4 separate regions of the Homo sapiens genome follow, and regions 1, 3 and 4 are each linked to region 2. Evidence: fine-mapped expression QTL. A gene starts in region 2. Each other region holds a variant in brackets. All regions are shown on one strand. Distances are from middle to middle. Region 1 overlaps BMP2K (BMP2 inducible kinase). Region 2 holds the start of LINC01094 (long intergenic non-protein coding RNA 1094). Region 3 overlaps LINC01094 (long intergenic non-protein coding RNA 1094). Region 4 overlaps ANXA3 (annexin A3).

Evidence for each region. PIP is the estimated chance that this variant, and not a neighbour inherited with it, causes the effect.
Region 1: its variant is the best candidate, but not a certain one, in a credible set for the expression of LINC01094 in whole blood (INTERVAL, PIP 0.87).
Region 3: its variant is the best candidate, but not a certain one, in a credible set for the expression of LINC01094 in whole blood (TOPMed, PIP 0.74).
Region 4: its variant is the best candidate, but not a certain one, in a credible set for the expression of LINC01094 in whole blood (TOPMed, PIP 0.66).

What each region holds. Positions count from the first base shown.
Region 1 is chr4:78,833,601-78,841,367 of GRCh38, forward strand. It overlaps BMP2K (BMP2 inducible kinase), which reads left to right. Exons shown (of 16, transcript NM_198892.2): 3 at 1-87. Among named protein-coding and RNA genes, the nearest start is that of BMP2K, 61 kb to the left of the region's middle. The variant C/T (reference allele first, on the strand shown) is at 1,849.
Region 2 is chr4:78,642,633-78,650,688 of GRCh38, forward strand. It overlaps LINC01094 (long intergenic non-protein coding RNA 1094), which reads left to right and starts at 3,362. Exons shown (of 3, transcript NR_038308.1): 1 at 3,362-3,631. It also overlaps the pseudogene HIGD1AP13. RefSeq lists an enhancer at 2,999-4,198.
Region 3 is chr4:78,663,081-78,671,136 of GRCh38, forward strand. The region is part of intron 2 of LINC01094 (long intergenic non-protein coding RNA 1094); the gene reads left to right. Among named protein-coding and RNA genes, the nearest start is that of LINC01094, 21 kb to the left of the region's middle. The variant C/A (reference allele first, on the strand shown) is at 3,584.
Region 4 is chr4:78,589,749-78,597,804 of GRCh38, forward strand. It overlaps ANXA3 (annexin A3), which reads left to right. Exons shown (of 13, transcript NM_005139.3): 7 at 1,796-1,875; 8 at 5,633-5,689; 9 at 6,046-6,139; 10 at 7,571-7,666. Among named protein-coding and RNA genes, the nearest start is that of ANXA3, 42 kb to the left of the region's middle. The variant G/A (reference allele first, on the strand shown) is at 3,111.

The DNA of each region.
Region 1 (7,767 bases), 190 kb after region 2:
AAAATATTGTGGGCTATTTGGACTGTGCTGTTAATTCAATTAGTGATAATGTATGGGAAGTCCTTATCTTAATGGAATATTGTCGAGGTAAGTATTTTTTTGCATTTGTACTGTAATAAAAAGTTTCTCCTTAAATGGGTTACTAGGTATCTTTGTTATTTCCAGGGTAGCTGCTAACTAATTCTAGTCACTTATTGTAATCTTACCTTTCATTATCTAATTAGGAATATTGTTAAAACATTATTTAAAACCTAGTCATAGTTACTGCAGTTATGATATGAGCATGTAAACGCAGAATGAGAAAAGTGATATTGAGTTTAAAATAGGAAATCTAAGCAGGTACAGAGTTACAGTTCTTGCTCTCCATAGAATTCTTCTGTAATCCAACCAAGAAGAGGATAATATGTCAATATTAATGTTGTAAGATTTTTCCAGAACTCTACTACGTTATTGTAAACATTAAATTTAACAAATTTGGAGGATGCATTTTGATCTATAGACTTTATAAACCTGTTTTATGTAGTCTCTTGGTGGTGTTTGTAAACATTAGATATAGAAAATCACATTTTATTTGGACCTAATGTGATGTTTTAAAATAAATATTTACTTGTATAGCATACCTTAATCATCATCATCATCATAAAAAAATTCCTGACATTTAAATTTTTTTTTTTTTTTTGAGACGGAGTCTCGCTCTGTCGCCCAGGCTAGAGTGCAGTGGTGCGATCTCGGCTCACTACCAGCTCGGCCTCCCGGGTTCATGCCATTCTCCTGCCTCAGCCTCCCGAGTAGCTGGGACTACAGGTGCCCGCCACGACGCTCGGCTAATTTTTTGTATTTTTAGTAGAGATGGGGTTTCACCATGTTCACCAGGATGGTCTCGATCTCCTGACCTCGTGATCCGCCCGCCTCAGCCTCCCAAAGTGCTGGGATTACAGGCATGAGCTACCGCGTCTGTCCTTAAAAATTTTAATGTGTGGAAAGGTGGAGGCAAATATTCTATTTCCTACAAACTTGCAAGCCATATTTGGCACTTGTGGTTCTAGGGAGCCCTGGTTTACATTTACATTCTCTTCAGAAAGTAATGATTGTTAATTACTATCCCAGAAACTCTTACAGTTTCCTGAAGGTTGCGGAAAAAGAGGGGGATGATGGTGATGTTGGAGAAAATATGATCTTGTTTACTGCAGTATTTTAAGGAGGAAAGGATGGGGAAAATGAAGTGAATCAATGTGACAATACCTACCGTGATGTATTTGTAACTTATTTCCATACACAATATTTAACAACCAGATGTTTCTTGATTTTTCTTTATATCTTATCTTCTCTACTATAAAGTACTGTACTGTGATCTCTTTTAGGAGAAGATGCTGATTTTTTTCTACCCCATTTTCCTGAATTCTAGCATTTATAGTGCTAATTCTTAGAGTTTACTTGTAGCCCTTGACTACTTGTAACTTTTAAAAGATACTTGAATCAAGCATAATCATAACCTTGGATTAATTTAATTGTCACTTAGAAGACATCTTAAAAGGGGAATCAAATGACCTTCAAGTTTTAGGGGCAAATTTTATTTTAAAGTAGAAGAATGATCATATCTGTTTTTTGAGGAATGCATTGTTTTGTTTTAAAAATTTTTTAGAAATAGTTATCCGGTATTCAAATCATCAAGCTCTGTGGTATATGAAATTTAAAATTTTTATCAAAGTAATTTGTATATATGGTTTAAAAAGTCAAATAGTTGGCCTGGTGCGGTGGCTCACGCCTGTAATCTCAGCACTTTGGAAGGCAGAGGCGGGTTGATCACAAGGTCAGGAGATCGAGACCATCCTGGCTAACACGGTGAAA[C/T]CCTGTCTCTACTAAAAATACAAAAAAAAAGTTAGCCGAGCGTTGTGGCAGGTGTTTGTAGTCCCAGCTCCTCGGGAGGCTGAGGCAGGAGAATGGCATGAACCCGGGAGGTGGAGCTTGCAATGAGCCGAGATCGCGCCACTGCACTCCAGCCTGGGCACATAGCGAGACTCCGTGTCAAAAAAAAAAAAAAAAAAAAAAGTCAAATATCTTAAGCTGTGGCTGAATCAGTACCCTCCTGCCTCATCCCTCTTCTCAGAGGTAGTCCCTTTAAAATATTTGAGATGTTTCTTATATTTACTTCCATATTTCCACACTGCATTATATAAAAGAGAATCAGTAATTTTAGTGATTTCTTAAGGGTACAAAAGAGAAAGGACTTAGAAAATCAAGGGAAGTATATAATTCTGTGCATGAAGAGGCTCTTGAAAGAAAGTTTTCTAGTGCTACTTTTGATGTTTTAGATATTGTCTCTAAGAAAAGATAGGAATTTTACTTCTAGTATAGATATTCTCAGGTTTTGGACCAAATCAGTGTTTATTTTCCCATTTAATGGTGTCTGTAGTTGTATTTTCTTATCCTTTTTTTTTCCTGGAATTAGTAATTACCTCGGTTTTCATTTGCCTAATTTTCTTCATGTATATTAATATTTTAGTCCCGCATTTTCCAATAGAAGTAAAAATAATTGGCTGGGCGCCGTGGCTCACACTGATAATCCCAGCACTTTGGGAGGCTGAGGCGGGCGGATCAAGAGGTCAGGAGTTCGAGACCAGCCTGACCAACATAGTGAAACCCCTTCTCTACTAAAAATACAAAAAATTAGCTGGGCGTAGTGGTGGACGCCTGTAGTCCCAGCTACTTGGGAGGCTGAGGCAGGAGAATGGCGTGAACCGGGGAGGTGGAGGTTGCAGTGAGCCAAGATCGCTCCACTGCACTCCAGCCTGGGCAACAGAGCGAGACTCTGTCTCAAAAAAAAAAAAGAAGTAAAAATAATTATGCAGTATGTTTAGACATTTTAATATTTGTTTTGATTTCATTTTTTCTTCCCTTAAAAACACCCCTTGGGGAGACTTCGATCATCCTGCTTAATTTTGAACAGCAGTTAGCTGTCCTTCTGGAAATTACCTTTGCCTCCCTTCTGTCTTGGATTCCCTGCTACTTATGCCACACCTTTGTTTTCACTCACTAATTTGGAAGACTTTGTTTTTCAGTAGCTTTCTGACTGGATTTTTTGGAGAAGGATTTTTGAAACCTTGCATATATAAACATATTTTTATTCAGTGCCCACATTGATTGTTACTTTGGCTAGCTAAAACATTATAGGTTGGAAATAATTTTGATCCAGAATTTTGAGGACATCATTCCACTTTTTTCTTAGTGTTGTTGACAAATTGATGTTATTGTGATTGCTTAATTTTTCTATGTGACATCTTTTCTCCATGGACACTTTTAGTTTGAATCTTTCCTTTATCTACAACGTATTGAAATTTCAAGATATACGTGCCTTACTGTGTGTCATTTTTGGTATGCTTTTTGTGGCGTTTTTGTCTTCTATTTTCTGTTCTCTTACTGGACTTCTCATTTTCTTTCAAATGTTCTGAGCTTTCTAGATTGATAATCCTCTGATTTTCTTTTCTTATTTTCCTTTTCTTTATTCTTTTATTGTTGGAAGCCTTCCTCTATCTTTTAGCTCTTCTATAGAATTTTGTATTTCTATTATATTATTTTTAATTTCCAAGGACTCTTTTCTTTTTTTTTTGAGACGTAGTCTTGCTCTGTCACCTAAGCTAAAGGGTGCATAGTGCCATCTCAGCTTACTGCAACCTCTGCCTTGTGGGTTCAAGTAATTCTCATTCATGCCTTAGCCTCTTGAGTAGCTGGGATTACAGGTGTGCACCACCACATCTGACTAATTTTTGTAATTTTAGTAGAGATGGGGTTTTGCCATGTTGGCCAGGCTGGTCTTGAGCTCCTGACTTCAAGTGATCCACCTGCCTCGGCCTCCTAGAATGCTGGTATTATAGGTGTGAGCTACCACTCCCAGCTTGACTCTTTCGTGTTCTCTCAGTGTTCTTTGCTAAAGTACACCTTGTTACCATGCAGAGATACTGGGGGGAAAAATACACCTAGTTCTTGTTTTAGCTGCAAATCTTTTGTTGTCTGTGGATATTAATTTCAGTGTATCCATTTTTCTTTCTTTCCACCCCTGACCCTTCTTTCTTTGTTTTTGAGACAAGGTCTCACTCTGTCATCCACACTGGAGTCCAAAGTCAAACTTCAGGACTCAAGTGATCCTTCTGCCTCAGCCTCTTGAGTAGCTGGGATTAGAGGTGCACATGGCCATGCCTAGCCAATTTCTTAATTTTTAATTTTTTGTAGAAACAGGGTCTCACTTTGTAGCCCAGGGTGGTCTGGAACTCCTGGCCTCAAGCAGTCCTCCCACCTCAGCCTCCCAAAGTGTTGCGATTAAGGGCAGAACCAGTGTGGCCAGCTAATGTTAGTTTTAAATTTTTTTCTTTTCCTTGCTGTATTAGTCCATTTTCACGCTGCTGATAAAGACGTACTCGAGACAGGGCAATTTACAAAAGAAAGAGGTTTAATTGGACTTACAGTTCCATGTGGCTGGGGAAGCCTCACAATCATGGTGGAAGGCAAGGAGGAGCAAGTCACATCTTATGTGGATGGCAGCAGACAGAGAGGGTTTGTGCAGGGTAATGTCCCTTTTACATCCCTTTTTAAAACCATCGGATGTCGTGAGACTTATTCACCATCACGAGAACAGCACAGGAAAGACTTGCCCCCATGTTTCAGCTACCTCCCGATGGGTCCGTCTCACAACATGTGGGATTTCGCGATGAGCTTTGGGTGGGGACACGGACAAACCATGCTTTCTCTTTTTTTGTTCAAAGTTTTCTTCGGATGTTTTACCTGTTAAGGTTACTACATGTATTACAGATCAGTTGCACCCTCTAAGTGGGCAATTATTTCTTTATAGAAGAAATCCAGAAGGCCTGAATGGAGTATGCTCAATTTTCTCAATGGAGTATGCATGATATCTTTTCTCAGATGAATCAATTAGATAAGTTCCTTTTTCTTCCATGGTGGGGGAGAGATTTGGAAGGGCAGAGAATAGAGGACTAAATACTCTCCACTTACTTCCTCTGTAACAGCTAACTGCATTACATAAAATTGTTTAACAATTAAGGTATTTTAGTAAGGGAACCTATATAATGTATACAGTTCAGGGACATTGGCTTTTATTATGTAGGGATAAAACTGTACAGAGAGTAAAACAATATGTTATATAGCTCATATCCCCTTACGTGGTTTTAGGTATTCAATGTTTACCATCATCTTCTGTCAAGTGTAATCATCTTTTGTCTTGGTAAATTCGTGGTTTGGTACTGCTTTATTTGCTAATATTTTGATACATAGATTTAAAGAGAAATTATGTACTTTAGGTCTCAGACTTCCAGAAATCAGTATTGGTATTTTGAGCACATTTATATTATTGTATGAATAATTTGTGAGTAAATTATGAAAATTTATTAATTTTTAATGTATGTTTTTAGGAAGTATTCTACATATGTTTCCATGGATTATGTATCTGTTAGTATTTGCTTAATTAAAAAAAATTCCAAAACTCAATAGCATAAAATAACTTTCGTTTATTATCACCTGTGTATCCATGGGCCAGCTGCTTTCAACTTAGCTTGGTTGGGTGGCACTGCAGATTTTGGCAGGGCTTTCTCACATGGCAGTGGTTAGCTGGGATTAGTTGGAGTAGCTCTGCTTCACGTGTCCGTCATCCTCTTTCTGTCACTAGCAAGCTGTCCTGTGGATGGTTTTCTCATGTGGATGATAGAAACATAAGAAGGCATGTAGAAGCATATGAGGCCTCTTAAGGCCTAGTCTTGGGACTAGGACACTGACGCTTTTACCTGTTTCTGTTGGCCAAAGAAAATCACATGACTGAGCCCAAATCAAAGAGCAGGAAATTTATCTGCCTCATTTATTGGGACAGACTGCAGAGTTACATGACAAAGTGCATGTAAAAAGTGAAGTTTGAAAATTTAGGGCCAATAATGCAATCTACTACAGATAAAATTGAAAAATCTTGTTGTATTAGTCAGGGTTTTCTAGAGGGACAGAACTAATAGGATAGATATACATATAAAGGGGAGCTTTATATGTATATAAAGTATTACCTCATGAAATCACAAGGTCTCACAATATGCCATCTGTAAGCTGAGGAGCAAGGAAGCCAGTCCGACTGCAAAAACTGAAGCAGTTGGAGAGATGTTCAAGGGCAGGAAGCATCCAGCATGGGAGAAAGATGTAAGCTGGGAGGCTAAGCCAGTCTAGTCTTTTCCTGTTCTTCTGCCTGCTTTTTATTCTGGCTGTGCTGGCAGCTGATTAGATTGTGCCCACCCAGATTAAGGGTGGGTCTGCCTTTCCCGGCCCGCTGACTCAAATGTTAATCTCCTTTGGGAACACCCTCAAAGACACACCCAGAATCAGTACTTTGCATCCTTCAGTCCAATCAAGTTGACACTCAGTATTAACCATCACAGTTGTAAAAATAAAAAAGTCATATTATCAAAAATTTAAATGGAGTAATAGGTTGTATTTTTGGTTTTTTTTTAACTAAGTGGTAATATGTGTACTCAGATAGGTTGTTGAACACCTTTTTTAAGAGATTAGAAAAATGTTGCTTTTTAATGTTAGTGATGAAATTTGGCAGAGTGTAAAAAGCTTTTGTTTTGGGTTAATGATACCTCTTTGGAAAATATGGAAAGAGTTGAGAGTTGTAGGCATCTCATTTTATTTTATTTTATTTTTATTTATTTATTTTTTTGCAGTTGCAAGATTTAATAGAGTGAAAACAGAGCTCCCATACAAAGGGAGGGACCCAAAGAGGGTAGCCATTGCCGGCTCAAATGCCTGGGTTTATATCCTGATCATTGTCCCTCCCTCTGTGCTCTCAGGCGATAGATGATTGGCTGTTTCTTTACCTCCTGTTTTTGCCTAATTAGCATTTTAGTGAGCTCTCTTTACTACCTGATTGGTCAGGTGTGAGCTAAGTTGCAACCGACGTTTAAAGGTGGGGTATCTCATTTTAAAAAACCTTCAGTATATAATGTTTGATTTCCATATCTGACTTTTTACCTTTTTTTTAAATTAGAATACCTTCTTTTAAGCTTTATTTTTCAGAAAACTCTGAGTTTTGAGTAATGAAATTTTATTTATTTCATTTGAAATTCAGCCCAAATATAGTTTTTAGTTTTCTCTAGGGACTTGTTTTTTGTGATTGAGGATTTCTACTTCAAAGGTCTCTGGACAGAAGAAAGGGAATTAAAGTTTGTTTAAAATTTATTCTGCTTATTTTAACATTAAAAGTTTGGAAGAGGTGGATTGAGTTCAAGGTTATGATTTCTTTAGCTATGATATGATATTTCAAGGATGTGAATGTACACCAAGAAAGCATTTTTTTATTCTGTTTAATTATTCTTAAACTAGAGAAGCCTGGGTTTAATTAAAAGACAGGGAGTCTGCCAAATGAGGGAGTGGTGGAAGTTGCTGCATGGTCAGGTGCCCCAGTCTTGTGAGATAATCTGAACAAGTTACACCTGAGTTTTCTGAAAGTTGGGGATTCATAGGTAAAATTAATGTTCTTTTTGCTTTAAAATTCTATGAGAAAAATATTCTCAGAAAAGACAAGATTGCTTAGACAGTAATAATAAAAGGAACAAGTTTATATGTACCTTCTCATAGATTGTAAAATAGCATATGTTCATTTATCTAACCTTGTTAAAGGAAAGTTGCAAGTTAATGAATGCTTTATGTTTTTTTGAATTCCCAAACTCAATTTTTATTAGACTGATTTCTGTGCGAATCACATATTTACTTGCATTCTTA
Region 2 (8,056 bases):
GATATTATTTCATGAAATAAAATGTTCAGCTCTTGATTACCAGCCTCCCAGTTTTCCACCAAGGATGTGATGTGTTCTCAATGTACATTTAAGTTCTGTGAAGATTTTCCATTCATACATTCATCCAATAAATGTCAAGACATAAAGAATGCCAAGTCCCAGGAAGAGAAAGAAGAGTCCCATAGAATAAGGGGTTTAATTTCATGAAATGATTTGCATCAAATTCACTGGCCTCTCCTTGACTTCCAAACTCATTATCTTTCTAACCCAAGGCTCAAGGTAAGCCTGCATTCTTGTGACTCTTTCTGACAGTCAATCGTAACAAATCATGCTACCTCGGCTAACTGTCTTCACTTGATGTTCTACCCAGAAAAGCACAGTTGCTTTTCCTTCTGACCACAGCAGCCCTAGCCACACCCTGCATTGTCCAAGGGCATAGAGCCAAATTGCTGCTGTCACTGCTGCCACCTTTTGCTCCCTGACACCATCTAACAGAGCCTTGTGTCCCTACTATACTCCATGTCTTCCATCTCTAGGCTCCTCTTTTGCCACTGAGGAGCCCAGTAGGTGCCCACATTAGACACACTTCCTCACTGGCCAGACAGCAGGTGGGCAGAACCACAAACTCACTTAAGCTGCTGTCTTGAGATGCAGCTTTCTCAGGGACAGCTGGAGAGACAAAGTACACAGTCTCTAAGTGCAGTGGTCATGTCTTGTTCATCTTTACATCTTAGCACCTAGAATAGTCTTTAGCACTGGGTAGGAGCTCTGCAAATATTTGTGGAAAGAAGGAAGAGAAGGAAACCAGAATACTGAGGTGATTTGCCTAAGACACCTAGTTTAGCAGAGAACTAGATACGAATCCTGGCTCCCAAAGTCCTGTATCCATGCTCATTCCACTCTACCACTCTAGGCTTACATTGGCCTCCTGAAAGAAGGAAAAATGAGATAAATAACAAGGGAAGGGAGAGAGGATACAGAAGAGAACACCCAGTAAGGAAAATTTGGGGTTGTATTTGCAGGTGGCATAGCCACAAGGCCAGAGCTGATGTTTTCCTGGGCCCGAGGTGGTCTACTCCAAGGCAGATACATTGTAGTTATGGATAAATGGTGCTATTGATCAAATTCTCACATCTGGAAAAGGTCTAGCAAAATTGTTAATTCCAGGCATAGTGAAAGTAGCTCAAAAATATGTATTTTCAAAATGTAAATATGGACAATTACCATTATCCCACCTCCAATCTCCAAGCTTTTCTTTATTTCATTAATCATTTAAAAAATAAATATAATCTTTTCCTACCTAACCCAGCAAGATAAATGTGTCCTAAGAATTTGCTATTATTATTGCTGTTACTTAAAACATCTTTAGTGAACCAAGCATAGCAGGTATTAATTAATCTGATTTAATTAGAATGAGTCAAATTATATTCAGAAACCCCAGTGAAAATTTTAATAAGAAATTTCTTTTCAGAATATGACTTTGATGCAATTTTACTTTTTTCATGAGGTATGGACTGAGGAAGAGGAAGGAAGAGAAAGTAGGTAAAAGGAAATTTTTTTTTGCATTGCCATACTGTTAACCAAGACTAAAGACCAGAAGCAGAGAAATGGAATAATTAAAAAGTGATGACAATGTAATATTTAGGCATGCTGTCACACAGAGTCCAACAAAATGGTTTTAGAAATTATCTTTAATTCTTTTACTTACTGGGGAAAAAAATAATCCAGAAAACTATAAAGAGATAAATATTTCCTATTATCCTGTTGTTTGAAAATAACTACAGTTAGTATTTTAGTATATAGCCTATTCTACTGTTGCAAAATAGGTGCATTTCTAAGAAATCTCAACTTATCAAAAGAATGTAAAGAAACAGGTAACACTGGTTGAAATTGGAGAAGGATGGCTGGGGAATAGGGATGGAACAAAAATTTCTCATTTAGAAATACTAGCATGTGCCTTTTAGATTTTGTCCTTTAAAAGTGTATCTCCTATTAAAATTAAGCCAAATTGCAATTTAAAACTAACTTTTTTAAAAAAAAATGTTTTAATGGGAACAGAAATGTTAAAACTCACAGTAGAACAGAATTTTAAAAATAGTAATTTTAACAATAAATTTGTTTTCATAACCATAAATGTATTTGGTTATTGCTAGCTTTAATTTTAAAAAGGTAGATCAAAACCTACAAAAGGAAACACAAACTTCCTTACACTTTCCGCCACGTATTCAGCACCGTCTAATGCCTCATCACTGTTGCCATGCAGGTCTGCCTGCAGTACAGTCCATTACAGCCAGGGGAAGCAGCAGCTTTTTATCATTTCCCAGTTCCCAGTCAGTTCTGGTTATTACTAACAGTGATTCATTAAATTATGTTCAATAAGCAGCTAATTGTGCTATGTCCAATTTTTGTTAGGGACACTTTAACTGTAGGAGAAATTAATGCCTGTATAATTTTCCAAATGCTTTCCCCAGGCGTGTATACATATACTTTATATAGAAGTTATCTTTTTAAATTTGTTTTTACCAAAAAAAGAATCATAATAAACATACTACTTTAGAAGGTTTTTTTCACCCAACAAAGCATTTTGAAATTCTTCTCATTTTAACTTACCAAATTTCACCTTATCTACAATAAAAGTTTAATCCCTTATGAATGAGATTTATCTTTCAAAAAAGAAATGAATTTGCTTTTCTCCTTTCATACTGCCAGTATTTTCAGTATCTTTATGATGTTACTATACGAACATAAAAAATCAGTGTGATTCCATTACCATTTAAAGCCAGACACTAAGACCAATGGAGGCTGATATTCCTGTAGGCCATAGCAACCCTGGGAAATCTTGCCTTTGCTGAAGCTATACCAAATCCAGAAGTAATTGAAGTCCCCCTAAGGTTTCAGGTCCCCCCAAAGAAGGCAGGAGTTGTGCATTACTCAGCATTCTCAGATCTATTCTAAAGCAGATTATTTTCTTAGATTTTGATTCAATTCCATGCAATTCAAGCATTTTTATTTAATAAGTACAAGGCATTGTGCTCAAGGAGAAGTGTACAAGCTAAACTGGATCATTCTAATTTTCCTGAACACTTACAACCTCGTAGGAAGACATACATACATAAGTAAGTATGATACAAGGAAAATTTGTAAGACAAAGTAAATAAAAGTATTATAAGAAACACAGAAGAGGGATAGATTACTTTAGGCTGAGTGAGGTGGCTTTTGAGTTCCTACTAGAAGGGTGTGTAGGATTGTGACTAGAAGAGAGAGGAAGGTCTGGATGGAGCAACAAGAGTCTGGGCTATTAACACAGGTTTGAGTCAGGCTGACCGGAGCTGTAAAGCCCTTCTCGTTCTCACTGTGTGTTCTTTTCAGTTCTGTCTTCCTGAGGCTGCTGTTTCTGGGCATGGCCAGGGGATCTTCAGACTTTACAAACCAGTTGTGCAGAGCCAGGCATTTCAATAAGGAACAAAATGCTGAGTAACAACATGAAGTCAGAGTGTTGCTTGCCAAGAGCTGGGAGGCCTGGGTGGTTTCCCAATCTTAAAGAAGCAGAAGGATATTAAAGTGAGCCTCCCAAAGGAAAACGTGGATCTACTTACCAACGCAGAAAATGATACACACGGATTCGATTTAGGTAAGTGCACCCCCTGTGATGACTATTGGTCACTTCCAGATCACATGGACTAACTGTAGGTCTCAACTATTTTGACTTTTTTTTTCCAGAACAGACTAATACATAACTAACGGCTTACCTTTGTGAAAAATATTTTATGCACTGTAGAACAGATAATTTTCAGTCCTGGGCCAAAGGGGGAAACTTTGGAGAGAATTAAACAGGAAATGACTCTGCTACAAAGAATTCAGGAGCATGAGTGAAGTGAATAAACAATCCAGGCACGATTGATGAATTCTAGATGTCCTGGGAATAACAGGGCTTGTTGCCAGCTCAGATGGGTGAAATCCTACTCTGATGAAAGGCTCCAGGGCTGCAAGGAGACCACTCCTACATCCATCACATCAGTGTCACAGGTTTACCACCTGCTCAGCGATTATTCAACATCCTAAGGCCTTTTGCCCCATTACACACGTTTGACCACTTAGTCCAGGAATGAGGTACCAAATACTAGGGAGATCTCATAAAGCCTGCAGCTAAAATAAGCAGAGGAATCAGAAGCTGGACAGAGTGACCCAAGGAGGACTGGGGATAACTCAGGAGTTCCTTTTTTTTTTCTTTTTGAGATGGAGTCTCGCTCTGTCGCCCAGGCTGGAGTGCAGTGGCGCGATCTCGGCTCACTGCAGCCTCCGCCTATTGGGTTCAAGCAGTTCTCCCGCCTCAGCCTCTCAAGTAGCTGGGACTACAGGCACCCACCACTACGCCTGGCTAATTTTTGTATTTTTAGTAGAGACGGGGTTTCACCATATTGGCCAGGCTGGTCTCAAACTCCTGACCTCATGATCCGCCCGCCTCGGCCTCCCAAGGAGTTCCTTATTTTAATATTTGCTGAAAATTCTCCACCATAATTTAAACATGTAATGATAAGAAAAATATCTGCTTCTGACTGAATATTTAGAAAACACAGAGCTATATAACATAGAAAAAAACCCAAGTCGACCACTGACAAATAATTATTAGGACTATTTCTTTTCATTCTGTGTTCTCTGCACATATGAAAGTAAAAAATTGGAATCATATTGTATATACAGTTTTATATTAATTTTTTTACATAGTCACTTTAATAACAATACATATGCTATGTTATCACTATAGAATGTAAATTCAGGTTAGACAAGAAAATTTCACAAGTGTAATAAAGCATTCTAATTAGCTGGGCGTGGTGGTGTGCACCTGTAGTCCCAGCTACTCTGGAGGCTGATGTGGTAAGATTGCTTGAGTCTGGGAAGTTAAGGCTTCAGCGAGCTGTGATCATGCCACTGCACTCTAGAGCCTGGGTGACAGAGCAAGACCCCATCTAAAAATATATATATATAAATTAAGCATTTTGCCTTTTATCAAAGTTTGTGTATAGTATCTGGCCAAACCCGCTTGCTCATTAGTCACTTTCATTATAGGTAATTTGTTTAGTTTCTTGTTTATGATTCTTCTGGAGAAAATTTGAAAAGTGTTCTTCACTTACCTTAGCATGAGTGCTTAAAATAGGATGACATTTAAAAATTATTCTAATATAACAGCAGCTAAAATATAATTCTGCACTTATAAAAGAGCTAAACTGGAGTTCATAATTAAGTTATTCTCATGTTTACAATTATGATTCTGAAATAAATACTGTTACTATGAAGCTCTATTGTAAGCTTTCTTGATTCGGTTTAGACACACATACATACACTTAAGAGTTGTGAGAGGCGTTACAAGTTGTTAATGTATTCCATGCACGTTTCAGAAAAGTTCTAATAGAGACAGCCAGTTCACAAGACAGGAAGAAGAAAAGTTAGATTAACCAGGGCAGATAAGACTCCTATATAACATACAAAGCATGTGAAATTCTTCAGCAAACTGGGAATACTTCAGGGATCGCCAGCTATCTTCTTTAGAACTAATTTCTTCTTTCTTTTCTTTTCTTTTCTTTTCCTTTCTTTTCTTTTCTGTTTCTTTTCTTTTTTCTTCTTTCTTTCTCCCTTCCTTCCTTCCTTCCTTCCTTCCTTCCTTCCTTCCTCCCTCCCTCCCTCCCTCTCTCTCTCTCTTTCTTTCTTTCTTTCTTTCTTCCCTTCTTTCATCTTTCTTTTCTGTCTCCCTCTATCACCCAGGCTGGAGTACAGTAACTGCAACCTCCGCCTCCCAGGTTCCGGTGATTCTCATGGCTCAGTCTCCCAAGGAGCTGGGATTACAGGCATGTGTCACCACCCTCAGCTAATTGTGTGTGTGTGTGTGTGTGTGTGTGTGTGTGTGTGTGTGTGTGTGTATGTATTTTTGGTAGAGACAGGGTTTTGCTATGTTGGCCAGGCTGGTCTCAAACTCCTGGCCTCTAGTGATCCACCCGCCTTGGCCTCTCAAAGTGCTGGGATTACAGGAATGAGCCACCACACCCGGTCCTAATTTAATCTTTACAGTCTAAGAAGGTGGTTTTAAAGTTTTAACATCATCAAGTGGAATTAGGTGACATGTTTCCTTTGTGTTAACTTGACTTCCCTGAATGACCTAGTTAGTGAACTAGTCACTAGTAATTTGGTCACCAGGCAAATCAAGCATGCAAGAAAGGAAGCCAGTATTCAAAATACCGTGTTATCGTCTGAACCCACTCAAATAATTTATTTCCAACATAAACATGTAACCTCAATAATGAGATGTCTAACTAAAGTAAGGTCCTCTTACAAGATCAAGACAGCATCCTCCTTCCAAGGCTTAGGCTTTGCCCAGAATTCCTAATACACAGAACAGCCCATACCAACAGTCATTGCTTCTACAACACATGTGGATCAGGAGAAGGGACCTTTTAGCATTTCCTCTGCTCTTCCATTTGTATAATCCTTATGGAACAATTGCTGGAAAGCCTGCCATTCCAGTGAGAACAAATGGTGGCTCTTCAACTTTTCGAACAAGTTTGGATCCTTGATCTTTATCATAGGAAGAAAGGGAAACATCTGTGTCTGTTGACATAGTGATTGAAGAATCTTCCTAGAGTGAGAAAATCTCTCACAATCCAACTGACCTCTATATTAATTTTTTATCTAACATATTATAGTCATTTGCCATGTTATTAAGCATTGTTGTAAACATTGCTTTTAATGCTTATATAATATTTTATCTTACAGGTGTATGACAATTTATTTAAAAGTTCCCCTTCTTGGGATGCTTAGAGTGTTTCCACATTTTTAAATTATAAATAACACTTATGGACATCTGTACATATAAATCTTTTACCACAAATAAAATTGTTTCCCTAGGATTCACGTAAAAAAACATGGAGCAAGGTTTGAAGCTGTTGAACTCTATGGTTCCTTCTTCTTCTTTCCAGGCACGCTACATTCAAATGACTTGGAAGAGCAGGTTCTCTGAGCCAGGATACTAAAGTCCCTGTTTAGGAAAGAGCCACGTTGTATGTTTACCCTACCACAAAGATACAGGTGAGAAAAACTGAAGCCTGGGATGGTGGACCAAAGAGAGACACTGACAGAATGAGCCCTAGACTTCCAGAGTCTGGGAAACTTAGGCCAGATAAAGACTAGTAGTCTGGCAGTTATTACTGGGAATCACTCTTACTCTACAGCTAGGCGTGTGCCATTCCTCCTGTCCCTTAACTAGAAACTCCCTATGGATAACCTGGCTTCTCATTCCACTGGGAAAATTGAAGCATGCAGTAGAGACCTTCCACAAGCTCCCTCCACCACCTCTTACCCACTTGCCTGTCTCTATGCACATAAATATCTGTCTTCTTTTCTTTCAATACCATGTATAGGTTGACAACACTCACATTTTCATATCTCCAGCCCAGATTTCTCCCGTGTGTCTTGACTTGATATCTAATTTCCTACATGACATCTCTCTTTGGATGACTAATAATCATCTCAAATGTGTATGTCCAATACCAGACTGCTGATCTGCCTCCAAACCTGTTTTTCCTGTAGTCTTGTGCACATAAGTTGAAGGCAACGCCATCTTTTTACTTTCTCATGCCAAAAAACTTGGAGTCCTTTTTGATTTATCTCTGTCTCTCACACCCCACATCCCATCCATCAGCAAATATTTGCATCATGTCTCACTGGATACTGCAACCATCTCCTTGCTGATCTCACTGCTTTTCAGCCTATTTCACAACCCAGCGGTTGAAATAGTTCTTTTAAAACATAGGTCAGATCATGTCATTTCTCAAACCTACCAAATACTTCCATTTCACTCAGAGTAAAATACAAAGTCCTTATAATGGCCATACACAATCTGCCCCCTCCCCATCTCCTTACCCATCTCACTTCATGTCCTGCTATTTTCTCCTTTGTTTGTCTCTGCTGCAGCCACACTGGCCTTCTTACTGTTCTATAAATATGCCAGGCACTTTCCTGCCTCAGGGTCTATGTACTTCCCATGCTTTCTGCTCTTCCAGATTTC
Region 3 (8,056 bases), 20 kb after region 2:
TGTCATTCAGAGATCCACAGGAATCCAGCCTTTTGCTCCTTGAATGGGATAAGGAAGCACATAATCCCAGTTGCTCTTCCAGTCATCCCAGACCCACAGCCCTGCTTTAGCCATCCTATAGCCATCATATATTCACAAGGGGAGAGCAACTGAGGACAACACTGTGGATCCTTGTGACATAACCAAGCCAGTGAACCAATCAATACATTTATTTATTGTTTGAGCCATTGTAGTTGAGCTTACGTTACTGGCAGCTGAAAGCTGAAAGTTATTCTATCTGCCAATCCTCATCTTGCACGTCTCTTAGTTTTGCTCTTATCTCTCCTTTTCCTCTTTTTCACACATAAATCCCAATCTTTGTTCCAACTCACACTGTCAACACTCTGACCTTTCCCTCTTGCTTTCTTTTCCTCTTCTCTCTGTCCCTCTCCCTTTTGCCTTTCTTTCTGCCAGTGCTACCCACAGGTATATCTTAAATCTTATTAGCCATAGCCATGACCAAAGACTAGGACCACCACTAGGTATAACTGGATTAGGTGGAGTTTTGCTCATTTGCCCTCCTTTGTACTTTCGACATCAACATCCCTCACCCCTCAGCAATTCTCTCCACTGTGCCCCACTCCATATAACAAAAAGTCTTGTGTGCTCTGAAACATCCACCCAAAAACTATATTTTCACTAAAATTCCTTTGGTGATAATGCCTTAACATGGTGGTTTCCAAAGCTTTTTAAAACCATAACCCACATTAAGTATCCTCACTCAGTATACACAGAATATACACATAGGCACTTGATATAGTCTGGATATTTGTCCCTGCCCAACTCTTATGTTGAATTGTAATCCCCAGTGCTAGAGGTGGGGCTTGGTGGGAGGGTGTTTGGATCCCTCATGGCTTGGTGCTGTCTTCACAATAGTGAGTTCTCTAGACATCTGGTCATTTGAAAGTGTGTGGCACCTTCCCCCTCTCCTTGCTTCTGCTCTGACTATGTGACATGCCTGCTTTCCTGCTTTCCTTTTGCCTTCTGCCATGATCATAAGCTTCCTGAGGACTTCCCAGAAGTCAAGCTGATGCTAGCATCATTGCTTCCTGCAAAGCCTGCAGAGCTGTGAACCTCTTTTCTTTATGAATTATCCAGTCTCAGGTATTTCTTTATAATGTGAAAGGAAAATAAACCTTGGGGCCCCCAAATCACTAAGCTAAATGGAAAAGTCAAGCTGGGAACTGCTTAGAGCAAACCTGCCTCCCATTCTATTCAAAGTCATCCCTCTGCTCACTGAGATAGATGTATATCTGATTGCCTCCTTTGGAAAGGCTAATCAGAAACTCAAAAGAATGAAACCATTCATTTGTCTCTCGCCTATCTGTGACCTGGAAGCCCCCTCTCTGCTTCGGCTTCAAGGCTTCCTGCCTTTGCTTCAAGTTGTCGCGCCTTTCCAGACCCAACCAATGTACTTCTTACATATACTGATTGATGCTTCATGTCTCCCTAAAATGTATAAAACTCAGCTGTGCCCCAGCCACCTTGGCCACATGTCATCAGGACTCCCTGAGGCTGTGCCGCAGGCTCATCTTCAACCTTGGCAAAATAAACTTTCTAAATTAACTGAGACCTGTCTCAGATTTTCGGGGTTTAGAGTAGCAATGCAAGAAGGGACTAACACAACACTGCAGGAAAAGTTCTATGAAACACACTTACCTTTACTACCAGTGACACATTCTGATATTACATATTCTGTTCTATTTCATTTTTAAAAAGTGTTTGTCTGTACTCACTAAATTGATGTCATGGATAGTTGTTGTGACCACCAAAAACACTTCCTTCACCCACAGCAGAAATTCTGGTGGTCGTGTGATAAACTTGTCAAAAAGTCCTTTGAGGGTAATTAGACTCATACTTAAACCTGAATAAAATGACAGCCAACACCAACTAAAAGAAGTTCTGTCTGTGTCAATTTGGATACATTGTTTCCCCTAAAAAAATGAAGAGTGAGTGAGAATATATGAATGCTGACACCTGATGTGTTCCTAGTAATTTCAGGGGATCTTTCTGAAATGGCAAAAGTGTTTAAGAAACACCATTATAATTATTTCTGAAAGTAAAGATGTTTCCTGCAAAAGCTATTTGAGTCCCAGAGCCAATTCATTAATTGGTTTTATGTTTGACTTTTTAGAGCCCATTAAATATATCTATTTGGTTATTCATTTGGCAGCTATGCTACTTCTTTAAGAGCTGGGAATGGCAGATTGTCTATAAGAATCATTTTTATAACATGGATTGTGGTAAAAATGTGTTAGCTTTCTTGTTGATAACTACTTGTTATCAGCTAGAACCACTTTTACAGCCTGTACCATGTGAAGGCCTCACATATAAAGTCCATAGCATGTTTGAAAGTCACATGATATCTAGAAAAGCCCTGTATAAACTGGAAAGCATTGTGTAAACACAAAATATTATTATTATGCATTTTTTTAAAGTAAGAAACTCTTGCCTAAGAAGTCAGTCATCCCCATGGTTAGAACATGTCTCCCAAAGTTCATGTGTTGGAAACTTAATTGCCATTGTAACAATATTAAGAGGTGGGGCCTTTAAGAAGTGATTAGGTCATGAGGGCTTTGTCCTCATGAATGGACTAATGTTGTTATCATGGGAATGGGTTAATTGTGGTGAGCCTGGCCCCCTTTTTCTTTCTGCTTCATCTGCCCCTTTCTGCCATCCATCCTTTTGCCATGGAATGACTCCTGCCAGATGCCAGTACTATGCTCTCAGCCTTCCTGGCGTTCAGAACCATGAACAGAATAAATTTCTTTTTTTAATAAATTACCCATCTCTGGTATTCTGCTATAACAGCCAAAAATTGACTAGGGCCTTCATGAATTTTGAATGCCAATGAATTTTAATGTTTTTGTTAATGGTACTGAGTTCTATAAATGTTTTTCCCCACCCTCTAATTGATACGCACACACATGCACACACACACACACACATGCATACATATGCACATACATATTAGACTTTTAAGCCTATATTCAATACAATACAGGCTGGTTGCTAATTTACAAACCCTATTTTCTCTTTTATAAGATATATTAGAAGGTAGGTTTTCTTCTATATGTAGTTATAGTTGTGGTGTGATATGCCCAGAATTACTGTGAGATATGTTAAATGGTACAGTATAGCTTTAGTAGTTAAGGTTTTGGAGACAGAAAGACTCCAAATGCAATCTTACATTTAACAAGGTCTGTGAATTTGGGTGAGTTACTTAACCTTCCAAGCTCTGATGTTCCTCATCTGTCAGATGAGGTTAATATAATGCACCTCACAAAGATGTTATAGAATTGAATTTATCTCTACTCATTAAATTAATTTCATAATTTACTAATGGGTCATGACCACCAAAAACACAGGCTTAACCCACAGAAGAAATTCTGATATTAAGAATCATGGAGCCAGGTGCAGTGGTGCATGTCTGTAGTCCCAGATACTCAGGAGGCTAAGGCAGGAGGATTGCTTGAGCCCAGGAGGTGGAGGCTGCAGTGATATGATTGTGCCACTGTACTCCAGCCTGGGCAACAGAGCGAGA[C/A]CTTGTCTCTAAAAAAAGAAAAAGAAAAAGAAACAAAGCTGATTTAAAAAATTGTGGGCATATTACAAACCTGCAATGTATGTGTGTGTGTGTGTGTGTGTGTGTCTGTGTGTGCATGTAAAGTACTTAGGACTTAGGACAGCACACTTAGTATTTAGCACATAATACCTAGCAATAGCTCAATGAATGGTAGCTTAACAACAATAACTAATGATATTACGACATGTTTATTTCATCACACCTTCACCATGAATAAATGTAGAGATCTAGGACCTAGTACCTCTTGCTTTCCCTTTGGTGCTGAAGCTTCACTCCACTGCTTCCCAAATCTATGTGTCCACCTAGAAATGGGTCATGGTTGCTGAATCGTAGAATAATAATACTGCAAAATTGCTAAATCTCTGAGGGGCGTGTGTGTGTATGTATGTGAGTGTCTGAGTGTGTGTGAGAGAGAGAGAGAGGGAGAGAGGGAGGGATATGGGGAAGGGAAGCAGTGCTTGTCTCTTTCTTCTTGCTAAAGACACTTCCTTAAAAATAAATACACTGGAAAATAATGACAGGAAACTTTACAAAATTAAAAGAGGATGTCAGGAAGTACAGGATGTGAGGTTGTTTTCATTTCTGTCAGTATTTTCTTATTCATATATATTTATAACTTTAAAAAGCAGAGAAGTTCACTATTTCTTCTACTTAAGATCAAATTTATATATAAAAAAAAGACCTGTGACCAAAAAAAAAAGAACCCACTTAATACTTTCTAGCTGCAATTAAGTATCTGATCTGACTACATTATTGGGCAACTGAATAGAATACTTGTCACACTCATTCTCTATTTCTAAAAAATGATGCAGGCCAGGCCCAATGACTCACACCTGTAATACCAGCAATTTGGGAGGCCGAGGTGGGAAGATTGCTTGAGGCCAGAAGTTAGAGACCAGCCTGGACAACAGAGTGAGACCCCATCTCTACAAAAATATTTGTTTAAAAATTAACAATAACAACAACAACAGCAGCAACAACAAAACGGTTGCATTCTCAGACAGTTCACGCCAATGTGGGAAGGATATAAAAGTAAAGTACCCTGAAGCAGCAATGGATAAGAAAAGCTTGGTCTTTTTTTAAAACAAAAATTTTTTTTATTATTACTTCTTTCCCAGAAGACAACTTTCAAACATAGGAACCTAGGCAAATCAACGAATGCTCAAAACTGAAAACCCACTTCCCCCTCTGAGAATAGAGGGTACAGAAATATCAGTACTTTCAATGCTTTAGCAGTCATGTGAATGGTGAGCATTCTATGTTTTTCCATATGCACAGCAAATGAGCACGCTGCTTGCAGCTTTTTCTCCATGAAATGGGGATCTGCATCCCATAGTAGTTACTGAGCAGTACAGTTCCTCTCCAACATTGAAACAGTTTATCTGCAAACAAATTTCTAAAGTTCCTATGTGGCTGGAAGCCAAAATAAAACAACTATGTTTTGCTGTCCTCTGCTTTGCTGAACAGATAGATGTAAAAGGTTGTAGGTGGGCTTCTCTTTATTACTGCACTTGACTTATTAACACCTTGAGACTCGAAGAATAAAGTGTACTTCATCTTGTAAAAGTTTATGATCTAAGTCAAACAATTCAAAAGGTCATAATTTAGCTCCATCTAAGGAACTTTAATTCAAAAAGACAGGAAGTTGCTTCATATTAAAAGTAGCCTCTTCTTTACTTCTTAATAAAATTCCCTAAGAAAATATTTATGGCAGACATATGTTATTTTCATCATTCCTTCCTTGGGGAAACCACTATTCCCTGCTTCCACATGGTTTCAGAGGGGCTGCCTATCACTGTACCCTACCCCCCTTCCAGCCACACTGGGAGCATAGGACACAGGCCTGGCCAACCCTAAAATTATCTGTTCCTGAAATTAAAATAGTGATGTTGAAATAGATATGTTTCTTTCCCCTGGGATGCTAAGCTAGGGCAAGAGATCCCAGAGCTTCCCTGTGCCATCTTCACCACCCTGCATGGAGGAGGTGGAGCAGGTCCAGCCGCAGAAGGAGAAAATGGCAGAGACAGAGGAGCAAAAGGAGAAGGAGGAGGAAGAGGAAAAGAGGGAGAATGGGGAGGAAAGAAAGAGGAAAAAGAAGGGGAAGAGTGGAAGGGGTAAGAAGAAGAAAAGAAGTGTAGTCTAACCTCCACAGAGCTATGATTGAAGCCAACTGATTCCTGAACCTCCTAGATACCTGACTCAACCAATTTCCTTCTCCATTCAAATTAGTTTTAATAATTCTGCAACGGAAACAGGAGGAACTAACAAAGTAGCTAGTGTTTGTTCATTCATTCAACAAATATGCCAGGCACTAAATAGGCATAGAGTCATGATGGGCAACATATAGTCCTTGCCCTCATTGAGCTTATAGCCTGGTTAGGGAAAAAAATATCACACACACACACACACACACACACACACACTCTATTGGAATATATGTATATATATTCAATTTTTTATGTTATCAGGAAAACAGTAGAGTGCTGTGAAATAGCATTAGAAGAGAATTAGGGAGCTATGTTTACAGTATCACTAGAATAATCACATTTAAAAAAAAGGAATGCGTGCATGGTGGTTTGGGAGTCCAGGTCTAACAATCTAAGAGATGAGGCAGCATGGGAGAAACAGAGAAAATGTCCTACCTGGTTAGGAGACCAGGATCCTCATCCTAGCTCCATCAAAAACTGCAGAGGTTTTCCTCATCAGCAAAGAGGTAATAGGTGTCTTTCATTATTTCTCCAGGGTTATAATGAAAATCAAATGATCACATACACCTGATTCACATTTGAAAAGAAGAGTACAGTATATGGTACTGTGGTAGGATACCAGGGTACATGTGGTAGGAAGACTAACAGGAGAACATGGTCTACCCAGTTCAGAAGGCTGGACATGTCCCACAGTCAGGTAGGAATTGAAGAGGAAGGCTGATGGCCCACTAATGGTGGATGAGAGAATTGCTTTGCATTTACAAAGGACATACGACATGCTCCTTATTTACTTATTTATTTTATCCTTTGGCGTGTTAATGAGTACATTTTAAATGAGACAACAGCTCTCAATGATGTTTAAGACAATAATTTTTAAAAACTACTTAAGGTATTTTTACTTATTGTTTCCCATATGGCTTTTGCGCCTTCTTTACAAGACATTTTAGGTCATTTTTAAACCAAAAAAAACAAAGACGGCACCCCCATTTCTCTAACTTTTGAAAATCCAATTATAAAAATAATACACTAATATTGTGAGATATTCAAATAGCATAGGAGGTTATACAGTGAAAAGTCCCTCTCATGATCACCCCTACCTACTCTCCTTTCCCAGAGATAACTAATCTTAACAGTTTTCTCCATTCTTTCACAACTTTATCTGCATATTGGAACTGAGTCTTGAAAACTGAGTAGTAGTAGCCATTTGGCCACTCACAAAGTTAAGGGTTTATTAAATTATATTAGAAAGTATTAATTGGCCTGCCAGTGAATGGGCACAGCAACTGGGTATTTAATGGGCAGCTCCAAACGGAAAGCCCTGGCTGTGCAGCACCCATCTATGGCTGGTATGGTTTCAATCTGTGTCTTTGCTCAAATTTCACGTTGAACTGTAATTCCCATTGTTGAAGATGGAGCTTGGTAGGAGGTGATTGGATCATGGGGCTGGTTTCTCATGGTTTAACACCATCCCTCTTGGTGCTGTTGTGGAGATAGTGAGTTCTCATGAGATGTGGCTGTTTAAAAGTGTGTAGCACCTCTTCCACTTCCTGCTGCTCCTGGCCATGTGAAGTGCTGGCTCCCCCTTCACCTTCCGCCATGATTGTAGTTTTCCTGAGGCCTCCCCAGAAGCCGAGCAGATACCGCCATGCTTCCCATACAGCCTGTGGAACCATGGACCAATTAAACCTCTTTTCTTTATAAATTACCCAGTGTCAAAAAAAAAAATACGTCACCCAGTGTCAGGTATTTCTTATAACAGTGCGAGGACAGACAAATACAATGGCCAAGCTTACCCCGAGGACAGTTAGGATGGTGTTTTTTGGTTTGTGCCTGGGTCCAAGGTCAAATAGCTGGTACCCTTTCAAAACCCACAAATCATTTACAATCTTGTGTTTGTTCTTTGTTCCATTGGTAGAATCATTTTGCTTCCATCTCTCTACCACAACTGGGTATTGAGGATGTCATTTGGCAAGTAGAGGCCCTAACCAAAAGGTCCTAAATAATAGCTGCATGGGTATCTTGTTATTAAACAATGAAGCTGCTCCAATGAGAAAGGCTGCATTATAAAACCATGTGGCTTTAGACACACTCACTGCCGCCCAAGGGGGAACCTATGCTATCATAAAAACTGAGTGTCTATCATCCAGATAACATCACTAAATTAATGGTTGATATAAAAACTCAACTAATCTTTCAGATCCAACACTCTAAATGACCAGCTAAGCAG
Region 4 (8,056 bases), 53 kb before region 2:
ATACAATGGGTTCAGGAAGTCACTATCATGTTGGCCCTCATAAAGGGACCAGATGTCTTCTACAGCTTATTCAGTACAGTGGCACAATAGAGTCTAAATAAAGAGAGATCTAAATTCTTAACTTTTTTCGGTATTCTAAAGTCAATGGTGTGTGAGAGAGAGAACACTGAAACAGGGATCAGGGACTCAAAGTTCTAGTCCAGGCACCTGTACTATTAAAATATTCTATTTGATTTTATACTCTACTGTGCCTCAAAATGGATAAAGTAGTTGTCAACTTAGGTTGAAATAATTTTTTACTCTAATATCCCACAAAATATTTGAAGGAAAGGGAGAGGCTGTGTGAAATGACTTATAAAGTCTCATCTAAATAATTCCAAAATTACAAAATACTTCCCCAAGTTCTAAGAAATGGGATATTCATTCTTCTACTTGATATTTTCAAATTTAAAGTTTTTTATCTAACTAGAATGAAGGATAGATGTAACAATATCACAACCATTAGGTTTAATGATGCCTACTAAATATTATTATTTAGAAAAATAACACACTTTTTTGGTGGATTTTGCTTATATGAATTGCTTTGAAAAGTTACAGATTTCATAAAAAAGAGACTTACTAAAATCATGCTGAAGAAGTTTCCATCTCAGCGCAGTTCTTGCTATTGGATAATCTCATATCACTTTCTATAATTGTCTTTCATTGATTTAAATAGATGAGAATTCTCATGGCTAGTATGGCTAATTTATAGAATTCTTGAGAATGGTGCAGACAGTTCAGATAGCCACATGGTGTCACCTACAACAAAGGGTATAGTGGCTCCAAGAGAATCACCACCCCATGGATGGGGCAGACAGAGATTTAAGACTGATGGGCACTGCACATCACAGGCCATGCAAAAGGGGCTACAACTAGTCAGTACTAAAATATATGAACACACAGTTGGCATTTGTAAAGGGAAATGGCATGTTTTGGGTAGCTTTCTTACTTTTGGGAGATACGAAAAAATATGGTTTAATTATATTCATTAAGATTAGGGTTAGATTCGATAAAACAGAAAAATTACAGTGGCTTACAAAAGGTAGAAGTTTATTTCTATCATATGTAGAAGTCTAGACATTGGCAATTCTAAGTCTAGTATGACAGCTACTCAAAGCTTTTAGGAACTCAGACTTCTTCTTGATTACTTTTATGCCATCACTAAGAAGTGGTCCTTATCTTCACAGTCCAAGATGGCTGCCCAAGATGCAGATATCAGTTCACATGTAAGGCAGTTGGATGGAGGAAGGACTAAGATGAACATGGCCTCATCCCTTTAAGGAGATTTGTCTGCCTTCATTTCATTGTGAATAACTAAGTTATAGAACTGTACTAGCTAAGAGGAAAGCTGAGAAAGTAGTTTTTAAGCTGTGTACATTATATCTTGCTTAAGGTTAGGGTTCTCTTAGTATGGAAGATGGCCAGAATGGAAATTGAAAGGCACACTAGTAGCTCATCCACCCCAGCTTTTCCACTATGCATCCCTTAGTGCCATTGTCAGATGAAATAAACCAAGATTTGCTCCAGAATGACAACTCTTTCTATTCTTTTGCATCTACCACAACACAGTGCAGTAAGAGTTACAAGAAGAATGTACCATCTCACAACAGAAAAGCATGAAGAAATTAAATAAAAGGGCAAGATTTATCTTATCACATACCCATTCTTTGCTAGTGTTGGCATTTAAACTTTTCTCTGTTTTATAATCATATTTTTCAGTTTGTCAAGGCTTAATTTCATTCTGATTTGGTTTCAGTATACAAGAAGAGTCTTGGAGATGACATTAGTTCCGAAACATCTGGTGACTTCCGGAAAGCTCTGTTGACTTTGGCAGATGTAAGGTTTTATTTTTTATTTTTTAACTCCCCAGTAAGCTGCATGCTCAATAACAATTTTTAGGGAGTTTAAAAATAACCAAACTGAGACAATGAGTTCACAATTTTCCTTATGAAATGGTTTGTTCATTTTACATTTTCATTGCCACCAAGCAATATAATGTTTAACCAAGATCATAAAAGCATACATAATGATGTAACAACAAAGAAAACTTATTTGAGTCAGTAAGTGGAGGTGTTTTGGTCAGGTTTCACAATTTTGACATTAGAAGACATTCTGATACATCATCTGACATACAATATTTATTTCCATTATAAGTGTCTCCATTTTAAAGAACAGGTTTATTTTCTTCTGGACTCTGAAGAATAAATATTTCTTTTGTTAGCTTCTAAATTAAATAGGAAGCATGATACAGAAGAATGATCTTTAGAGATGGGAATTAAATTGAGTATCAGTCTCAGGATTAAAAAAAAGAAAATGATTGCTGCAATTTCAGCCTTGCCACCTTGGAAAAGCTGCCAAACTATTAATCATCATGTGACCTAATGAGGCCACACCTTGCTTTCTCTTTTTAGAAGGCTTATGACTTTTATTATAAAGATGGTAAGGTCAAGGATGAGGTGTATTCACAGCTGTGTGTAAGAGAGAACGTGATTTAAACCATAGCTCACCAATTTTCTTTCAGCTGATTTACATAGCACCTAAATGTGAGAAAATCCCAACAACGGTCTCAGCCTCATGGTTGAAACAGCACCTGTCAAAGTGAGGCATTATGCCATTAGGAAGCGATTTATCTAAATTATGGTTTCAGTTACTTTAAATGTGAAAAACTTATGAAGGTTGAACCCACAACACCAAATTTATGAAGCATTGCTGCAAACATATGCTCTCAGAGGTATATATTCCTAAGTGCACATCTGTTTGTGTATGGACATGAATGCACCCACCCACAGGAGGCAGTATAGAGTAGGGCTCTAGGACAGGGTTCTAGAATCAAACAGGGCTGGAATCTCATGCTGCCAACTAGCTTTGTATATTTGGACAAGTTCTTTAAGTCTTAAAGCATTCATTTTCATATCTGTAAAACTAAAATACTAACAATAACAAGTACTCATAGGGTGTTATGAAGATTAAGAGAAAGAGAGAGTATGTGAAGTACTTAGTGATCAACACAGGGTGGTAGTGGTTAGTATTATATTAAGACCGATGATAATCAGCATTTATGTCATTGGAGC[G/A]AGCGTAAGTGAAAGAGAACAAGAAGAAAGCAAACAGCAGCAGGGTATCAGCAGCACAGAAAAGAAACCAGGCAAAAATCAGACAGTCATACAAGGACCTAATGTTTAAAAATAGGAACAAATTCATTTTAAACTATTGTAGCTAAATGTTTCATTCACCTATAATTTGCCAAATAATTCAGGCAATCCCGTGTTTTGGTTTTGTCTCCTGTCTTTCCATAATGTGCTTAAGTATTTGTACATGAACACACATACCACACACACACACACACACACACACACACACACACACACCACTTAAACCATAGAGCCTTTAATATCACAGTTGGGGATCTTTGAGGACTTTTTATTTTTTCTTTTTTGAGACAGAGTCTCACTCTGTCATCCAGACTGGAGTGCTGTGGTGCGATCTCGGCTCACTGCAACCTCTGCCTCCCAGGTTCAAGCAATTCTCCTGCCTCAGCCTCCCTAGCAGCTGGGATTACAGGCACACGCCACCACACCCGGCTAATTTTTGTATTTTAGTAGAGACAGGGTTTCATCATGTTGGCTAGGATGGTCTCAAACTCCTGACCTCAATCAATCCACCCGCCTCAGCCTCCCAAAGTGCTGGGATTACAGGCGTGAGCCACTGCGCCCCGCCTTTGAGTTTTTTTTTTTTTTAAATAAACTTTACTTTTTAGAGCAGCTTCAGATTTATGGAAAAATTGAGCAGAAAGTACAGAGAGCTCCCATATGACCCTATTCTACTCTCTCCTTTCCTTTCCATTATTATTATTATTATTATTATTATTTTGAGACAGGATCTGGCTCTGTTGCCCAGGCTTGAGAACTATGGTGTGATCTTAGCTCACTGTAGTCTCGACCTCCTGGGCCCAAGCAGACCTCCCACTTCAGCCTCCTGAGTAACTGGGACCACAGGTGTACACCACCACATTCAGCTAATTTTTTTTTTTTTTTTTTTTTTTTTTAGAGCGAGAGAAGGTCTCACTCTTGCATTAATTAGTATGTGTATTTATTATAATTGGTGAATGAATATTGATACATTATTATTAACTGAAGTTTATAGTTTACATTAGGGTTCACTCTTTCTGTGATATAGTTCTATGGATTTTAATAAATGTATAATGTCATATGTCTATCATTACAGTATGATAGAGTAGTTTCACTGTCCTAAAAATCCTCTGTGCTCTGCCAGTTCATACCTTCCTCCCCACCAACTACTGATCTTCTTACTGTCTCTATAGTTTTGCCATCTCTAGAATGTCCTATAGTTGGAATCATACAGTACGTAGCCATTTCAGGCAGGCTGGCTTCTTTCACTTAGCTATATGCCTTTAAGGTTCCTCTATGTCTTTTCATGGCTTGATAGCTCATTTCTTTTTAGTACTGAGTAGTATTCCATTGTATAGAATATTTATTTTACCTGCTGAAAGGCATCTTCTTTGCTTCCAAGTTTGGCAATTATAAATAAAACTTCTGTAAACATTCATGTGCAGATTTTTGTATGGACATGTTTTCAACTCCTTTAGTTAAATAGCGAGGGGTGCAATTGCTTGATTATATAGTAAGAGATATTTAGCTTTATTAAAAAACTGCAGAACTGTCTTCCAAAGTGACTGTACCATTTTGCTTTCATATCAGCAGTGAATGAGAGTTCCTGTTGCTCCACATTCTCACCAGTATTTGGTGTTGTCAGTGTTTTGGATTTAAGCCCTTCTAATAGGTTGTGTAGTGGCATCTTATTGTTTTAATTTGTAATTATCTAATGACATACAATGTTGAGAATCTTTTCATGTGCCATCTGTGCGTCTTCTTTGGTGAGATGTCTGTTGAGATCTTTCAACCATTTTTAAATTGGGTTGTTATTTTCATATTGAGTTTTAAGAGTTCTTTATGTATTTTGGATACAAGTTCTTTATCAGATACATGTTACAAATATGTTCTCCCAGTTTGTACCTTGTCTTTTCTTCCACATAAGACCTCTGTGTTGGGTTGGGCACAGTGGCCCACACTTGTATTCCCAGAGATTCAGGAGGCTGAGGTGGGAGGACAGCTTGAGGCCAGGAGTTTGAGACCAGCCTGGGCAACATAGCGAGATCCCATCTCTAAAAAAAATTTTTAAATTAGCTGTGTGTGGTGGTGTGCACCTGTAGTCATATTAGCTATTCAGGAGGCTGAAGCGGGAAGATGGCTTGAGCCTTGGAGTTCAAGGTTATAGTGAGCTATGACTGCAGGACTACACTCTGGCCTGGCCAACAGAGAGTGAGAACCTGTCTCTAAATATATATATATATGAATTTTCGGAGGAGGGAACTGAGGCCCCCAAAATTGTGTGATTTGCTAAAAATTTCATGACTAGTCAATGGCAGAACCAGAACTGGAGCCCTGAGTACATGATTTTTCTGTGCAACCTGTCCTGCCTTAAAGAAAAACCACTAAGATCCCCTGCTGGTTGAAGTACTATGTGTTAGAATCTTCTATCTTTAAAGGATGGCCCTTGTTTTCGTCCTCCTGTTTAGGGCAGAAGAGATGAAAGTCTGAAAGTGGATGAGCATCTGGCCAAACAAGATGCCCAGGTCAGTAACAAAGCGGGAAAACATTTCCTTTACCTATTCTCCTATGTGGCTGCCTTTGCATTTATGTGAAAAGGGAGAAAAATAGCAGCAACAGGGACTTTTCTTTTTTTTTTTTTCCTGTTTGAAAGAGAAGCCTGAAGCTTGGGGATCGGAACCCTAACTTTTTGCCTGCCCCAGTGGTAGTTATCATTCTCCTTGGCTCCTGACAGCCCAATTTTTGATTTCTAGTCTTCTGAAAGTGAGAGATTTAGATAATAGATGATGGCACTGACCTCTGAAATACAACTCCGATTCTTCTCATGTCACCTCTCAAAAAGAAAATAATTGTGTCTCTAATATCATTCTCTTGTGAATAGATTCTCTATAAAGCTGGTGAGAACAGATGGGGCACGGATGAAGACAAATTCACTGAGATCCTGTGTTTAAGGAGCTTTCCTCAATTAAAACTAAGTACAAACTCACATTACAATCCTTTGTGTTGTATGTTGTTTTTACAAATGTTTTTGCATTTAGTATACAAAGATCTAGAAAAACGAAGTTTAAAATTGCGAAGTCTGTTCCAGTTATTCACACTTCAGGAAACAAAATGGGAAAGCTGTATTGTAACTCAAGGAAGTACTGACACTACACTTTTGTTTTTCCATAGAGGCTGAGTAGATTACCTAGTGAGTACCAGGTAATAGATGGGGGAGGGAGGTGGCAGGGAGAAGAAAAGAGGCCACCCTCTAGGGTGAGAGTAGAAGGGCTTGTTCCTGTGGAATGGAGAAGCCCAACTGCTTCCACTCCACCTAACAGTTCTCCCTAGTTAGCCACTTCCAGAAAAGCCAGACACTGCAGGTGAGTCTCTGTTGACACATCAATACTGATTAACCTTTAGCTATTTCTGATATGAAGGTAAGTGGTAGAATGGATCAACTCTTATCGTCAGACCAGCTATTACATGGAATTGTGGGCACCCGCCCTCTTGCTCATGGCATCTCCTAGAACTGTTCTGGAAGCAACAACACCTAGAAAACTAAACCTTCATTTACTGTGAACATCTTCTGACTGTGGCTTCCAGATGCTAGTTTACAGAACAACCACACAGCAAGACCAAGCTTATGCTGAGTTGACGGAACAATGAGTAAACATAAGGATATTACTGTGACTTTGAAATTCTGAAATTGTTCTTTCTTAACTTTTGCATTAAAATCACATTTATTTTATAAAATAATGACAACAGTATGTGATAGTTGCTTTATTCATGTCTTTGTTTGAAAAACAAAAACCAGATAACCCTAGGTCTCTCTCCAAAATTTCTTTTTTTAAAAATGTATTGGGGAAAAATATACTTGGCTTACAAAATATGCCTGTATACTTGGTGACATATGTACAGGTTTTGCTTGGGGCAAATACTGATCAAGAAATTCAAATGCCTTCTGGGAGGTGTGAAGTAGGCCATGCCACCTTAGGAAATGATTCAGCACAAGGAAGTCTTCAGAATTAAGATTTCTTTACCAGAGAAAACATATTTGACTAGTGATTATAGTATCATTTCCCAGGTGCTGCTATAAATAAAATTTAAAATAGCCCAACTTACTGGATAAATTATTTATTATTTAACTATTTAGGCTATTTAAAATGCTTACTGCTTGAGAGAAGGGGAAAGAGAAAGAGAGATCATTGAAGAAAATCATCTAGGGAGTTTGGGTTTTGTTGTAGATGATTTCCTTAAAAAGGAACAAAAGAAAAACAAAAACTTCTGTGCCCAGATTTTCATGGTTTAAAGAGGGAGTTTTTTAGCTTGCTACTTGATCTTCTGCATATCAAATAAAAAACTAGAATATATTCAAATGTGCTCAACTGCGTTGCTTTAAATAATTTTGTGGTGCTTCTTTTTAGCATTTGATGAATACAGAAATATCAGCCAAAAGGACATTGTGGACAGCATAAAAGGAGAATTATCTGGGCATTTTGAAGACTTACTGTTGGCCATAGGTAAGACTTCGAGTGCTGGTAAACTAAGTTACTTTGCACTTGCTTTAACTCAGTGCCGAGGCCTGCTCCTTTTGGGCAAGAATCCTGACTGATCCATTTTTTTTGCTCCCTACAGCCCCCAACATGGTCCAGGATACACACAGTACGCTCAACAAATATTGTTAAATGAATGCTTGAAGAAGTTATTTTTTTAAGTCTTTTTTCTTTTTCTTTTTTGAAACAGGATCTCACTCTGTCACCCAGGCTGGAGTGCAGTGGTGTGATCTCAGCTCACTGCAGCCTCAACCTCCTGGGCTCAAGCAGTCCTCCCACCTCAGCCTCCCAAGTAGCTGAGACAACAAGCATGTATACCACCTGGCCCAGCTAATTTTGTATTTTTTGTAGAGATGG